2 separate regions of the Homo sapiens genome follow, and region 2 is linked to region 1. Evidence: fine-mapped expression QTL. Tissue or cell type: whole blood. Region 1 holds a variant in brackets; the other region holds the start of a gene. All regions are shown on one strand. Distances are between the middles of the regions.

The links. PIP is the estimated chance that this variant, and not a neighbour inherited with it, causes the effect.
Region 2: it holds the start of TNFRSF9, and the variant in region 1 is fine-mapped to the expression of TNFRSF9 in whole blood (TOPMed, PIP above 0.99).

Annotation. Positions count from the first base shown.
Region 1 is chr1:7,912,144-7,920,495 of GRCh38, forward strand. TNFRSF9 (TNF receptor superfamily member 9) reads right to left here. Exons shown (of 8, transcript NM_001561.6): 8 at 3,728-8,352. It also overlaps a transcript of UTS2 not described here. Among named protein-coding and RNA genes, the nearest start is that of TNFRSF9, 25 kb to the right of the region's middle. The variant G/C (reference allele first, on the strand shown) is at 3,348.
Region 2 is chr1:7,936,693-7,944,692 of GRCh38, forward strand. It overlaps TNFRSF9 (TNF receptor superfamily member 9), which reads right to left and starts at 4,147. Exons shown (of 8, transcript NM_001561.6): 1 at 4,092-4,147; 2 at 3,203-3,386; 3 at 2,029-2,136; 4 at 1,501-1,638; 5 at 998-1,064. The coding sequence starts at 3,302. RefSeq lists a silencer at 5,851-5,990.

The sequences.
Region 1 (8,352 bases):
GAATTCTTCAAGATAGATCCCTAGTGGCTAACTGAGCCTAAATTTAAAATAGAGCCAAATGGCTAAAATAGTTAGCCATTTGCTAACTAGAAGTCACACAGGTACTCTGAGATTCCTGAAAACCAGCACCTTCTTAATGTTGGGACTTTTGGAGCTCACCTGCCTCCACCAACCAGGGCTCAGCTGTATCGACTAATGAGGACTCAGCGGCATAAACCAATCAAAACTAAGCAAGTTTCAGTCTTTCATTTGCATAAACAGACCTGATTGGGAACCTGGGCAGGAACTTTATAACACGCAAATCCCCCTTTTCTTGTTGTTTTTCTTTGAGATGAAATCTCACTCTGTTGCCCATGCTGGAGTGCAGTGTCATGATCTCAGCTCACTACAACCTCCACCTCCCAGGTTCAAGTGATTCTTCTGCCTCAACCTCCTGAGTAGTTGGGACTACAGGTGTGTGTCACCATGCCCGGCTAACTTTTTTATATTTTTAGTAGAGACGGTGTTTCACCATGTTGGCCAGGCTAGTCTCGAACTCCCAACTTCCGGTGATCCCTCTGGCTCTGCCTGTGACCTCATGTGCCCTCCACTGGGGCCCCCACAGAGTCCAGAGCTGTCCCTGGAACAGCTCTCCTCCCTCCCCAAGCTCCATCCCAGGACTTCTCACTCTGCCCTGCCAGGAGCCAGCAGTCCCCTCTGCAGTATTCCTGTCTCCATTCACTTGTAACCACGTACCCCCATTTTTCTAAGAAATCGTTTATTTTTTTTTTCTCTCTCTCTCTCCTTTTCTCATTCCCCTGGTTCCCCACTTCCTACTTTGCCCTTTAAAATGCAAGTATAGCTTTTTCTTTTTTTTTTTTTTTGTTTTTATAGAGGGCAAGTTCCTCTAACTCTGTGCTCCAAGACTCTCCTCAAGAGCTAATAGTCGATTTACAAACCAAAGCATGCATGCCTGCTACGGAACTCCCACCCTCCAGGAGGTTGCCTCGGAACTCCCTCCCACCAAGAGACGTGAGAGATATGGGACTCTGTCCTACCTGGGGAGTTTTCGGCCTAGTCCTGCCCATGAAGGCACCGGCAGTCTCTAGCTCAGCCGCCCAGTAGATAAAGCACTAGATCTAGCCTGCAGACCACGCCCGGCCCTGCTCACTTCCTCCCCTGCCTTTTCAACGTGCCGTCTTTCTGCTCCAAAGGTGAAGCGGGACACTTAAGATAGGACACCTGTATTTCTTCCCCTAAGCTAGCTTTGGGATAAATCACTGTCTTCATACCACACCTCGCTCTTGTTAATCGGAGTCTGCAAGTGAGTGACTAACCCGCGTTTCAGTTACACCCTCCCTGCAGTCAGGGAGCACTTTCTAAAAGGCAAATCCAATCAAATCTCTTCACTGGCTTCCTAGTGACCACATGTTAAAATCAAAGCTGCTTTTTTTTTGTTTTTTTTTTGTTGTTGTTTAAGAGACAGAATCTCACTATGTTGCCCAGGCTGGTTTTGAACTCCAGACCTCAAGGGATCCTGCTACTTTGGCTTCCCAAAATGCTGGGATTACAGGGTGAGCCACTGCTTCTAACTAAAATCCGAGGGTTTTTTTTTTTGTTTGTTTTTCTTTTTTTTTCTGGAGTGCAGTGGCGCGATCTCGGCTCACTACAAGCTCCGCCTCCCGGGTTAACTCCGTTCTCCTGCCTCAGCCTCCCGAATAGCTGGGGCTACAGGCCTCCGCCACGACGCCCGGCTCATTTTTTGTATTTTTTAGTAGAGACGGGGTTTCACCGTCTTAGCCAGGATGGTCTCTATCTCCTGACCTTGTGATCCGCCCGCCTCGGCCTCCCCAAGTGCTGGGATTACAGGTGTGAGCCACTGCACCCGGCCAAAATCTGAGTTTCTTATATAACTTATAAAATCTGGCTCTCTGGTCCCTGCTCACCCTGTGGCTTCCTTCCCCTCTCCTCAATCCCAGCCCCAACTCTCCCTCCCATGTGCCTGGGCCCATGGCTCCTTCTGAGAAGCACACTGCCTGGACAGGCATCGCTTCCTCTGCATCCCGCTTTCCCTCCCTTCCCTCTCCCCCCTCCCCCCTCCCTCCCCCGCCCCCTTCCCTCCCCCTTCCCCCTCCCCGTCCCCCAACTCCATCCCTCCCTCCCCTGCCTCCCAGCGGAGCTCCCTGGTGCACAGCTGCCCCTTCCCCACATCCCCCCCACCCGCCACCGTGAGCACCAGGAGGGCAGCTGCTCTCACTCCCCTTTTGCCGTCCATCCATGGTGCTTGGTGCCTGGTGGCGTTGTGTTGAATGAAGATTCCTCTTAGAGAAAGCATCTTGTACCCCAATGTGGATCTTAACACGTTGGACATGTCATTCCCCTCGAATGAAAGTTCCCAGGCAGGAAGTGAGTTTTACCTTATCATGTGGATGTGTGGATCTTATCAGGTTAGACATGTCATTCCCCTAGAATGAAAGTTCCAGGTGGGAAGTGAGTTTTATCCTTGTGCTTGTGTCCTGATGTGGTTCCTGGTGCAGAGTAGACACCTGGATGGCTGCTAGTTCAGTGAAGGAGTCATTTGGATCCAATAGTCAGCATCTTCAATGAATGTGTCAGAATCTGCCTCTTCAATGAATTTGGAAAAGTTGTTTGAAAGGCTTCAATGGCTTAGTGAATTTTAAATACAGCTATCTGAATCAATATTGATGTAACAACAGTTTTTTCTTTTTTTTGAGACAAGGTCTCACTTTGTCATCCAGGTTGAAGGGCAGTGGTGCATTCATGGCTTACTGCAGCCTCGACCTCCTGGGCTCAAATGATCCTCCCACCTCAGCCCCCCAAGTAGCTGGAACTACAGGCATGCACCACCATGCCTAGCTAATTTTTTGTATTTTTGGTAGAGATGGGGTTTTACCATGTTGCCCAAGCTGGGAAAACAGCATTTTTTTTTTTTTTTTTTTTTTTTTCCTGAGACAGAGTCTCACTCTGTCTCTCGGGCTGGAGTGCAGTGGTGTGATCTCAGCTCACTGCCACCTCCACCTCCCAGGCTTAAGTGATTCTTGTGCCTCAACCTCCCGAGTAGCTGGTATTACAGGCGTGTGCCACCATGCCTGGCTAATTTTTGTATTTTTAGTAGAGATGAGGTTTCACTATGTTGGCCAGGCTGGTCTTGAACTCTTGGCCTCATGTGATCCACCCGCCTCAGCCTCCCAAAGTGCTGGGATTACAGGTGTGAGCCACTGTGACTGGCCAAAAACAGCATTCTTCTTTTTTTTTTTTTTTTGAGACAGAGTCTCGCTCTGTCGCCCAGACTGGAGTGCAGTGGTGGGATCTTGGCTCACTGCAACCTCCGTCTCCCAAGTTCAAGT[G/C]ATTTTCCTGCCTCAGCCTCCCAAGTAGCTGGGATTACAGGTGCATGCCACCACGCCCGGCTAATTTTTGTATTATTTAGTAGAGGCAGGGTTTCACCATATTGGTCAGGCTGGTCTTGAACTCCTGACCTCTGGTGATCCACCCCCCTTGGCCTCCCCAAGTGCTGGGATTACAGGTGTGAGCCACTGCACCCGATCAACAGCATCCATTTTTATGTAACTAATAAGTCAATTGTTGAAAGCAAAAGGAATCTCATACTGGAAATCTTTAGCATCCTTCGGCACTAAAAGCCAAAGTTTACAAAGAATGGCACCTTATTTCATGATTACCCTTTATGATATGATGTTGCAACAGTTATAAAAAGCTTTTTAAAATAAGGTCTTTTTTTCTTATTCTTTTTTTCCTGTGAACATCATAGTTTTGTGTTTTATTAGATAGTCTTTTAAATAAAAACGTTGATAAAGATCACTCTCCAAGTCCTACCACACACAGGGCACATGTAACCTGCCCTAGCTGCGGTGGGCACCTCTCACCCACAGATGGAAACATCTTCCTGTGGGGGAAGATGCCCACTTTATAGTCATCCGCCCCTCACATCAAAACTTTCCGTCAGAGTGATATCTTCCACTAAAGAAAAAAAATTAAAACTTTCTTCTGAAAAAAACCTGAGCTTGTTTTTAGCATTTAGAAAATGATTTATAATTTGTGTATCCCTAAATGTGCTAATTTATTTTTAATCATAGAAATTTACATTTATTTCTATTAAACCTAATTATGGAACTTTCTAAATTAAACCCAGAAGGGGATCATTTTATTCTGTCTCAATGTTCCTTCCTTATTAATTGTCATTTAGGGGGAGCAATGACTCACATGCCAAGTTCCTGTGTTTTTCATTTATAGCTTTTGCACATGATACCAGAATAGGCTATGATAAAAATATCACAGTCTGTATCATAAACATAGCCTCCTTTCTTCACAGAATAAACTGTGGATTTTCGGTGTGTAACCTAGGACACATGAGAGCCTCGCTCCATTATCTTGGATACCCCAACCCTGTGGGGCATGACCAGTCTCTTTCTGTTTGTGGATAGTCAGCAGTAGGTAATTAAACACCATGTGTCCAAAGCCAAGAGGAGAAATCACTTTAGAACTTACAGCATCATGATTCAGAAAGACAAAAATATTCGCACCTAGCTTTGTTCCTGAAATGGCACCAGTATACTTCCTAAGCTTTGCTTTGCCTACTATTTGGCAAGAATTGTACAGCCAATAATTGTTCTCTTATTCTTATTGGAACACCAGATGACTCAATTCTGTAAAATTATCAACTCTCCCTAAATTGACCTGTAGATTTAATGAAATTCCAATCCAAATCTTTTCAAATTCAGCTTCTAAAATTTATATTGAATAATAAAGAACCAAGAATAACCAAGACATCTCTTTTCTTTTTTTTCCTGAGACAGAGTTTCGCTCTGTCACCCAGGCTGGAGTGCAATGGTACGATCTCGGCTCACTGCAACCTCCGCCCCCCGGGTTCAAGCAATTCTCCGGCCTCAGCCTCCCAAATAGCTGGGATTACAGGCACATGCCACCATGCCTGACTAATTTTTGTATTTTTTAGTAGAGATGGGGTTTCACCATGTTGGCCAGGCTGTCTCAAAACTCCTGACCTCAGGTGATCCATCCGCGTCGGCCTCCCAAAGTGCTGGGATTACAGGCGTGAGCCACCGTGCCTGACCTAGCTAAGACACTTCTGAAGTAGAAAAAGAAGGTGGAGGGAGATGTCCTACCGGATATCGAGAGCTGTTACAAAGCTATTGTAATAAACACAGTGTGATACTGGCACAGGATAGACAAATTGACAATGGAACAGAACAGGGAGCCCAGAAGCAGACCCATGGCCCTATGGAAACTTGATGGATGGTAGGTGAGATTGCAGACCCGCAGGAGAAAGACGACGTATTGAATACATGGCGCAGGGACCAGTGGTTACCTACATGCAAGACATGGAATTGGATCACTACCTCCCAACAGGCACAAAAGCCAGTTCCTGATACATTAGACTTCAAGATGAAAGACAAAACTTAAAACTTTTGGAATAAAATGTGGGCAAACCTCTTTATAGTATTGGGCAGAAAAGGATTTCTTTAGCCAGGCAAGAAAAAATGTTAACCATATGAGAAAACAGTTATAAATTTAACCAAATCAAATGAAGAACTTTTTGCTTATTACCAGAAAGACAAAGAAAGACACCATTAATTAGAGAAAAACAGGAGGGGCGCGGTGGCTCATGTCTGCAATTCCAGCACTTTGGAAGGCTGAGGTGGGAGGATCACTTGAGCTCAGGAGTTCAAGACCAGCCTGGGCAACATAATGAAACCTCAGAAACCTCACCTCTGCTAAAAATAAAAATAAAAAAGAATTTTATAAAAAATTTTAAAAAGGGAAAAATAAATTACAAAGGATATATATATATATATATATAGATATAGATAGATAGATAGATAGATAGGCAGAATTTCACTCTTGTCACCCAGTCTGGAGTGCAATGGCACAATCTTGGCTCGCTGCAACCTCTGCCTCCTGGGTTCAAGCGATTCTTCTGCCACAGCCTCTGGAGCAGCTGGGGTTACAGGCACCCGCCACCATACCCAGCTAAGTTTTGTACATGTTTAGTAGAGATGGGGTTTCACTGTGTTGGCCAGGCTGATCTTGAACTCTTGACCTCAGATGATCCACCCACCTCAGCCCCGCAAAGTGCTGGGATTACAGGTGTGAGCTACCGTGCCTGGCCACAAAGAAGATATTTTTTAACACATATAACTGACCAAAGATTATTATCTAGAATACATAAAGACCTTTTAGGAATCAGGACAAACAACCACATTTGGGTTTGTTTGTTTCTGAGAAAAGGTTTTTCTCTGTTGCCCAGGCTGAAGTGTAGTGATGCGGTCCCAGCTCACTGCAACCTCTGCCTCCCAGGCTCAAAGCGAACCTACTGAGTAGCTGGGACTTCAGGTGCACACCACCACACCCGGCTAATTTTTGTATTTTTTGTAAAGACAGGGTTTCGCCATGTTGCCAAGGCTGGTCTCGAACTCCTGGGCTCAAGCGATCTGCCCACCTTGGCCTCCCAAAGAGCTGGGACTACAGGCATGAGCCACTGCACCCGGCCCCAAGTTTTTTTGCAAATGGGCAAAAAAGCATGAGCAAGCATTTTATTTAAAAAAATAAACACAAATGGTATATAAATATTTGACAAGGTGCTCATCAGTAACCAAGCAAATGCAAACTAAGACCACAGTGAGATCTCATTCTATACCCACTGGCTTGGCAAAATTAAGGGCACCTGATAGTACCAGAGGGTAGCAAGGATGTGGATCAATGGGATACTTACATGACACTTATATGACTGACGGGAGTACATTAGAACAGCCACTTTGAAAAGCAATTTGGTACTGCAGTAGACTATTGTTCAGAAATATCTTCTCCTCACCCCTATTTACAGAATATACTTTTCTGCCCTATTGATGCCTGGCTTGGCTGCAGGATTTGCTCTAAAGGTTATAGTAGAACCAACTAAATAGGAGCAGAAGTGACAGATACCCATTTGCCATGCGATGGCCAATGTTCCAAATAGAAGCTGCTCCCTCCACCTAAATCCCAGAGTAAAATAACATGGGACAGAGGCACGCAAGCTTGCAATAGGCATGTCATACAAAAGTGTAAGAAATGGCCAGGCATGGTGGCTCATGCCTGTAATCCCAGCACTTTGGGAGGCAGAGGTGGGCAGATCACCTGAGGTCAGGAGTTTGAGACCAGCCTGGACAACATGGTGAAACCCCGTCTCTACTAAAAATATAAAAATTAGCCAGGCGTGGTGGCACATACCTGTAGTCCCAGCTACTTAGGAGGCTGAGGCAGGGAGATCACTTGAAACTGGGAGGCGGTGATCCAAGATTGTACCACTGTACTCCAGCCTGGGAGACAGAGTGAGACACTGTCTCAAAAAAAAATAAAATGAATAAAATTTAAAAAGCTATCCTTAGATCATAAGCCAAACAATGGCAGGCATGCCAGGTTTGCACCTGTAATCCCAGCTACTTGGGAGACTGAGGCGGGTGGATCACTTGAGCCCAGGAGTTTAAGGCTAAAGTGTGCTATGATTGTGCCTGTGAATAGCCACTCCATTCCAGCCTGGGCAACAGAGCAAGACTGTCTCAAGCAAACCAACAGACAAACAAAGGCAAATGGTGCACCAGGTTTGGCCATGGGAGTTTGGCGGCCCCCACTCTAGTGCTGTGGTAGGACAATGAGCTCACAGGTGTTAATTTTCTCACTGTACTTCATACCTATCATATGCAGTTCATTTATTGGCTTTGGTATAAAATATTATGTTAAAAGTTAAGAATTTTTAGAATGTAACCTGGCTTAAAAGGGAGCAGGACAAAGGCAGAAGGTGTGAGGATGGAGAAGACCATAGGATATACAGACACTTGAACTCTTTCCAAAACTTCCTCCAGGCCTGAGGTTTTTTGTCCTTGACCCTAAACTCAGGCACTCTGCTCATACTCCCCCCTGACGGTGGAGCATGTCGTGTTACATGACAGAACCCACGGAAACTTTAGTCGGGTACTTACTGCACCTCGTGGCTTATTGTCATATGTCATATTAGCACCAAAAAACAAACCTGCATTGATTTTGATTATAATTATAGTTGGACCACTGGACTATGTAATTGAATTTAAACTATAATTTTCTTTGGATTTCAAAAAAACTAGCTCAAACCTGTTAAGTGGTATCTAGAAAATGCTTTTTTTTTTTTTTTTTTATCACCAGCTCTGTCCTCATCTGTCTGTTCTGTTAAAAGTGGTGCATTATTTTGGCCGGGCCTGGCAGTTCATGTCTGTAATCCCAGCACTTTGGGAGGCCAAAGTGAACCTAGGAGTTTGAGACCAGCCTGTACAACATGGTGAAATGCCATCTTTACCAAACAAAAAACAA
Region 2 (8,000 bases), 24 kb after region 1:
TAAAAGTAAAATAATAAAAATGATTTTCTAGTAAGAAAATGAAACGGAAAAAGAACAAATACATATAAAATACAACGCCCAAATTTTTATTCTTAGTCAACAGACCACATTACTCTGCCAATTTGCCTTAAAAGTTTCTAAATGTTTACTCTCTAACCCTACACCACTGTCGATGGGGACACAGGACAAGCCATTTGTGGACCAGCACCCATCCACAGACCACAGTGTAAGTTCTGGTTCCACAAAACAACAGTCACATTCTCTCGTATACTATTGGCTTTTTACCACCTGTGATGGCCTTGTGTGCCCAAGTCTGTGCCACATTTTGGAGGGTAACGAGCAATTGTTAGTTTCTTCTGTATCATTCTAGGGGCTGGCATTGAACACATGGAGACAGGCTGATCAATGAGAGAAGATAAGAGGCAGCAAAGGAATGAGAAGGAAACAGAAAAGAGGCAGACAGCGGCAAAGTTCCACTGGCAATTCTTTTCCTTTCTTTTGAGACAGGCTCTCTGCTCTGGAGTGCGATGGTGCGATCATAGCTCATTGCAGCCTCAACCTCCCAGACTCAGGTGATCCTCCTGCCTCATCAGCCTTCCCTATAGCTGGGACCACAGGCATGTGCCATTATGCCTGGCTAATTTTTTGATTTTTTGTAGAGACAGGGTCTCACCCAGGCTGGTTTTGAACTCCTGGGCTCAAGGAGTCCTCCTGTCTCAGCCTCCCAAAGTGCTGGGATTACAGGCGTGAACCACTGCACGTGCCCAGCCTCCACTGGCAATTCTGATCTAGATGTTCCAGGCACTATTTCTGGAGAAAATGCCCACTTTGCCTATTGAGTTGCTACGACCTCACAGTGTTCCCACGCTGCCTATTAGTATGTTACATTCTGTCTACACTTGATGGGTGCAAAAAAGCTTCAATGATAGCATTCCTTATCTTCCAAAAAATTTAACCCAGATTCTTTATTCCATAAACTAAAGGAAATTATACGTACTTTGTCCAGGGTCGACAGATGCCACGTTTCTGATCGTTAAATGTCCCAAAGCAACAGTCTTTACAACCTTGTATTAAAAATGAAAGCAATAATAAAAGGGAAGCATTTTCATCATTTTGTAACTTTTCCTGTGATGAACTTAATATAAGTCATTACCATAATGCAATCTGCACAAATTGTTCAATAATTCTTGAAACAACACCCTAAGATGGCTAGTTTTTATTTTAATTGTACATAAAGTATTGTATATGTCTGGAACATGTGAAGATTAATGGTTCTGGCAATTAACAAATGTTCTGATTTCAAATTATTTCCATTTATGAAGAAATAACGGAAATATTTTATTAATTGAAATATTTTATTAATTAAAATATGATATATCATATACTCCCTTGTTACTTTAAGGTTCTACAAATCTGTTTGTTTATTTTCAAAGGATCAAGATCAAAGCTAAGTTTGTCTATGTCACAAAACTACACTAGATCAAAGAAACGCAAACGTACCTTTTTTTGTCAGTTCTTGACCTTGTTTACAATCCTGTTCACACATGCTGCATCCTGCCCCCAGGCAGTGAAACCCTGGAGTGCAGTCACACTCTGCATTGCTGGTGGAGGAACACTCCTTCCTGGTCCTGAAAACACCTACAAAGTCCCCCCAGCCCCCAACATTTTATTACACTTGACCTCCAAATCCAGGAAGCGAATTTATGCTCTGCAGTAAAAATCATGCTCACTCTACTTATAGTGTTCCCAGTAATTTTAAAGTTTACTTTTAAATCTCCATAAAGACATTTTTACATTTAGGTAAGTAAAAACTTCTCTCTTGTCAAATGAATGTTTCCTCTAATATTTAGAAAGCTCAGTCCACAAATAATTGCTGTCACTGGATATTATTGTCCTAGACCTGCTGGTTGGCAGAAGAATCAGTCTTTGACACTTGAGATTTTCAAAAGAGAGCAGTTAGTAAATGGGAAAGAAAAGCTTATCTTCCCAACTATCTTCTAGAAGAAGAAAATATCTTTGAACTCATACCTTTACACTGCCTGCATATGTCACAGGTCCTTTGTCCACCTGCGCTGGAGAAACTATTTGGAGGACAGGGACTGCAAATCTGATTCCTGTTATTATCACAGAATGTACCTAAGAAAGGCAGACAATAGTGGTACACGTTTGACAATGGGCAATCGTCACCCAAGGCATTCCGAAGTTTACAATAAAATAAGATTATAAAAGAATGATGAGTTTTCTAGATGCCACAGTGGTGGACATTAGTTTGATTGACTTCCTAAAACAATACATTTGCAAGATTATTCTTTGTGTAATCACAGAATTAGAAATAACAAAATACAGGCCAGGTGCAGTGGCTCACGCCTGTAATCACAGCACTTTGGGAGGCCGAAGCGGGCAGATCACCTGAGGTCAGCAGTTCAAGACCAGCTTGGCCAACATGGTGAAATCCTGTCTCTACTAAAAATACAAAAATTAGCCAGGCGCAGTGGTGCACACCTGTAATCCCAGCTACTCGGGAGGCTGAGGCAGGAGAATTGCTTGAACCTGGGAGGCCAAGGTTGCAGTGAGCTGAGATCGTGCCACTGCACTCCAGCCTGGGCGACAGAGTGAGACTGTGTCTCAAAAAAAAAAAAAAAAACATACACACACAAAAAAAACAAAAAAACCAGATATTGTAACAAATAAATCAACAGAAAGAAAATACTTTATCTATTGAATAAAACAAAATGATTATCTTGATTGATGTAGGAGATGAATATGACTGGATCCAGGAGGACATCAATGTCCTACACTAAAATTTAAATGCGACTGACCGTCCCCACTCTGTTAAGCCCTTTACTACGCGCTTACTCGCTGCTATGCCCCCAGTCGGAGCACAAAGCCCTACACACAAAACTAACATTTATTGAAGTCTTGCCTTGTGCCATGCACTGTTCTAAGCCCTTCATTTGATCCTCCCAGCCATCCTATAAAACAGGTTCTCTTATTATCCCCAGATGAGAAAGTCAAGGCACAAGAGGTTGAATGACTTTGCTGTGTTCACACAGCTAGGTTGTAGCATCCAATAAACATTTGTAAATGAATGAATTTTCATTTTCCTTTCCTTAAAAGGGAGCTCGTTAGCCCTGACTACTAGACTAACTGAACCATACTTCCAACAGAGCAGATCAAATGCACATGATAACTGGGTACTCACCAGCTGGGCAGTTACTACAAGGATCCTGCAATGATCTTGTCCTCTCAAAGTTGAGGACCAGCAACAGAGTGGCTACTATGTTGTAACAGCTGTTTCCCATGATGAAATCTGGCACAGGTATGATACTAGCAAAGCTGATTCCAAGAGAATTTTAATCAAATTAGCTGGTCTCACAAATGTCACTCTGCAAAAGATAAACATTTCCAAGGAAAGGTGGTTTCTCCTTTCAAAATTATCTATATTGCAATCATTACTTATACAATTCTATAAGAGGATAACTCAGGGTTTTTCAGGAACAATTAATGATGCAATATTACGGAAAAGTAGCAGATTCATAGAAACCACTAGGACAAGGCAGGCGTGATTAAACACACAGCTTTGTGCCGGTTTGCCAAAGTTTGAGGGTGCATTTTCCATCATGTTCTGCCAAAATGCAGAAATAACAATAGCAAGAACTTTTGGGGACTTTCATAGGTACTTTGCAGTACCAACCAGCAATAATGCCAATTACTTATTGCCCCTGAAATAAACTCCTTACAAAGAGAATCTGTCAGGGGCATCAGACAATTCAGTTCAAGAAGAAGCTATCACATAATCACTCTTCCCCCTTTAGCTGAACACCTAACTACTAACATGTGGAAAGACCTCCCTGTTCAACTCACTAACACATTTTCTTAAACAGAGACATGTTTTGAGATGTGAAGTTTGTATGGTAACAAAACTAAGGAGTGAAAAACTCTTCAGGCTAAGTTATTGATGTTTATTTAAAGGGCTATTGAAGAGAAGTTATTACATATTAGGAGAAAAAGTCTAGAAATGGGCAAAGGGAGCAAAAGTTCCAATCTCACCCCTTCTCAGTGCCCCCACCCACTCCCCCAGATGGACAGACCTTGAGATCTCAGGGCTGCCGGAGAACTTTCCACTCCTTGGTCTTCAGGCTTCTGCAGCTCGAGAGGACTTCAGGTCAAACACAGGAGTGCGGTGACTCAGCCAGGGGCGGGGTCTCATGGGAAATTCCCACCACAGCTCTGTGACAGCCCTATGAAATCATTCATTTCATATCTGCTGACCCCGAAATCCCCTAGAGCCCCCGTCCCTGCCTGATAATGGCACTTCAAATTGCTTCTTGGAAGCAGCTCTCTACTGTCAGGATGTGTCACAGATGACGCTGGGAAAACGATTTTGTCCCTTAAGATAGCTCTCCAGGACAAAGCATTTAGCATGTCCTTAAAACACTGGATTTGAGATTAGAGGAATGAAACCAAATTCAAAACAGTGATCAGCATTTTGCCATATGCGGTCCCCTAACTCCATAGTCACTGTAATGCAATAGCTGCCATTACTTGAGCACAGCCGATGTGCCAGGCATCAGAGATGCACTGCGGTGAATACACACTATCCTCGAAAGAACCCTAGAACTTGGTATGACTGCTGTTGTTACTGGGAGAACACTATGCAAATGAGGAAAGTGGGGCTGCAAGTGGAATTAGAGCGTCAACAGGACAGGGAGCAGGCAGGGTTGGAACCCAGGTCGGCCTGGTCCCTTATCGTGCTCCTCCGGGCATGGGTGACAGAGGGAGGAAGGAGGGAGAAATGGAGGGAAATGGAAACAGGGGAAGCACAGCAGTCACACGGCAAGTCAATGACCAGGACGTGGTTCGGTGAAGCTGAGAGCTAGGAGGGATTTTTAGAAAACCATGATTTCAATTTTTCTTTAAAAAAAAAAAAAGGAGAAAGAGACCAGGCGCGGTGACTCATGCCTGTAATCCCAACACTTGGGAGGCCGAGGTGGATGGATCATCTGAGGTCAGGAGTTTGACACTAGACTGTCCAACATGGCAAAAACCTGTCTCTACTAAAATTACAAAAATTAGCAGGGAATGGTGGCGGTGGACCCCTTTAATCCCAGCTACTGAGGCTGAGGCAGGAGAATCGCTTGAACCTGGGAAGTAGAGGTTGCAGTGAGCCGAGATTGCGCCACTGCACTCCAGCCACAAAAAAAAAAAAAAAAAGAAGAAGAAGAAGAAGAAGAGGAAGAGGAGGGCAGAGAAAGCAGAAGGAAAAAAAAGTACAGTAAGAGGAGAGGAGGAGTATAAGGAGAAAGAAGAGGGAGAAGAGGAGGAGGAGGAGAAAAATAAAGAGAAAAGGAGGAGGAGGAGGAAGAAGAAAAGAACAGAAAGAGAAGGGGAAGAGGAAGAGGAGAAGGAAGAATGAGGAGGAGAAAGAATGAGACGGAAGAATGAGGAGAAGGAAGAGTGAGGAGGAGAAAGAATGAGAAGGAAGAATGAGGAGAAGGAAAAAGGGGTGTTTCTGGAGGAGGAGGAGGAGGAGGAGGAGGAGGAGGAGGCGGCTGCTCCAGGCTGTAGATGAACCTGCCCATCATTGAGCAGCTGGAGAACCTCAGGAAAACCAGGGGAACTGTGGCTGGGGCAGGCGTGGGCTGGGGAAGGACATCGAGAGTAGCTTGGGCCGTCCTCCTGCCCCGCGGTTCCCAGCACGAGCTCTCCCGACAGAAGAGGAAAACGCGGCGCGACTCGGTTGGGGGACAGCGCTGAGATGCGGACAGATGCGGACGTTCTGCCGCCGCCTGCAGGCAGAGGGACTCGGAGATCAGGCCGCAGAAGCAGAAGAAGGCAGACGGGAAGGAGGAGGAAGGAAAGGAGCCTTGTGGCTTCGTGTCCGACCCTCCCGCCCTTGGCCCGCGTGCCTGGAGCCAGCCCCACCGCGCCCGCGTTTCCTCCCGCGGGACTTCCCTTGGCCCTGGGTCTGCAGCGGGTCCTGCCGAGCTTCCTTCCCTCAGGCAGCCTCTCTCTCCCTGGCCACTCTCGGGGGTGAGGGGGGTTACCGGTTCCCAGTGATTTTTATTCCCTTTGCTCTCTCACGCCTCATGTTCCCCATTCTCCTGCCTCAGTTGTGTAATCTTGAGCAAATTTCTCAACCTCCCTAACTCTGTTTTTGCAAGCACATCTTACAGGTGCAGTGACACCATACATCTTCCTCGTGAGTGAGGATTAAATGAGACGATGAGCATGAAATACTTAGCTCAATGCTTGGCACATAGTTCTCAAGAAAGTAGGAATTGCTATGATCAGACTTACTGGTTTGAAATGTTCCTTCCCTGCCTCCCACACTGACCATCAGTAGAGCCACCACAGGGCAAGTCATGACAGAAAAGGAGAAAAACGCATGAGCTGCCTGCAAAATGTGTTCCCAAATACTGACGGTCATCTGAGAGTTATCTTACCTGTGACATCTGTGGGATCCCTCCTTGCCCCACTTTGGCAGAAATTGGCTGAATGTGAGAGTGTCACACCATAAAAATCGGACTGCTGATCCCCTCCTAACACTTTGAAAGTCACCATCTAACCAAGTAATCTCCTTGTTTACATGTGGTACTCTGTTTAACATTGCAGTGTGACATTTAACTGGGCCATATTTCATTTAACTAAATGCTACTCACTAGTCTACGTTTTGGACATTCTGTAGGCAGAGACATTACTTCCTCTGAAAGTGACATATTTAGTTTCCCAGCACAGTAATTAGCTCACTATTTCAGGCTTTTATGCCAGTAACATAAGAGTCTTTACTGAGCTAAAAGAGTCTCAACATTAGTTTTGCCAGCCCACAGTTAAACAAAGTCAACCACTTCAGAATTCTGCTACTGAAGGCTATGCTCAACTTTACTCAGGCGTTTAAAAAATTCATGGCTGGGAACAGTGGCTCACACCTGTAATCTCAGCACTTAGGGAGGCTGAGGCAGGAGGATCGCTTGAGCCCAAGAGTTCAAGATGACCTGGACAAGATGCCCAGACCCTGTCTCTACAAAAAATACAAAAATTAGCTGGGTGTGGTGGCATGTGCCTGTGGTTCTAACTACTTGGGAGGCTGGGATGGGAGGATTGCTTGAGCCTGGGAGGTCGAGGTTGCAGTCAGCCATGTTTGCACCTGTGCACTCCAGCCTGAGCAACAAAACTAGACTGTCTCAAAAAAAAAAAAAAAAAGAATTCATGTTACTGCATGCATTTTTGTGTGGTATAAAATCATCGTAGTAAGCTAAGTCAAATTATATAGTTAACCAGATATACATACTATCTAAGCTAGCCAAAGGTGTAATACTCTTTTGGTATAATTTTCATTTGCTTTATAACATGTATCATATTGCTTTATCCATTGTAGCCCTGTAATCTTTCAAATGCAACAAAAGCTTTTTCTATTCCATAAAACCATCTCAAACTAAATCAGAGATGACCCCGACAAGACAGCAACACTTTAGCAGTATTAATAATATTAATAATATGTTTCATCCATCCTAAGCAGTATTAATAATCTGTTTCATCACATCCTAAGCATCTCATTCTAAACCAAGAAATAGGCCGGGTGCAGTGGCTCATGCCTATAATCCCAGCACTTTGGGAGGCTGAGGTGGGAGGATCACAAGGTCAGGAGATCGAGACCATCCTGGCTAACATGGTGAAACCCCATCTCTACTAAAAATACAAAAAAAAATTAGCAAGGCGTTGTGGCAGGTGCCTGTAGTCCCAGCTACTCTGGAGGCTGAGGCAGGAGAATGGCGTGAACCCGGGACACGGAGCTTGCAGTGAGCCCAGATCGTGCCACTGCACTCCAGCCTGGGCGACAGGGCGAGACTCCATCTCAAAAAAATAAATAAATAAATAAAATAAAAAAAAAATAAATAAATAAATAAACCAAGAAATAGATTTTATTTCATTTTGATTGACTATAGGTCTAATCTTGAATATCTCAAGCAGCTAAATACTTTGAGGCTAAATAGCATGAA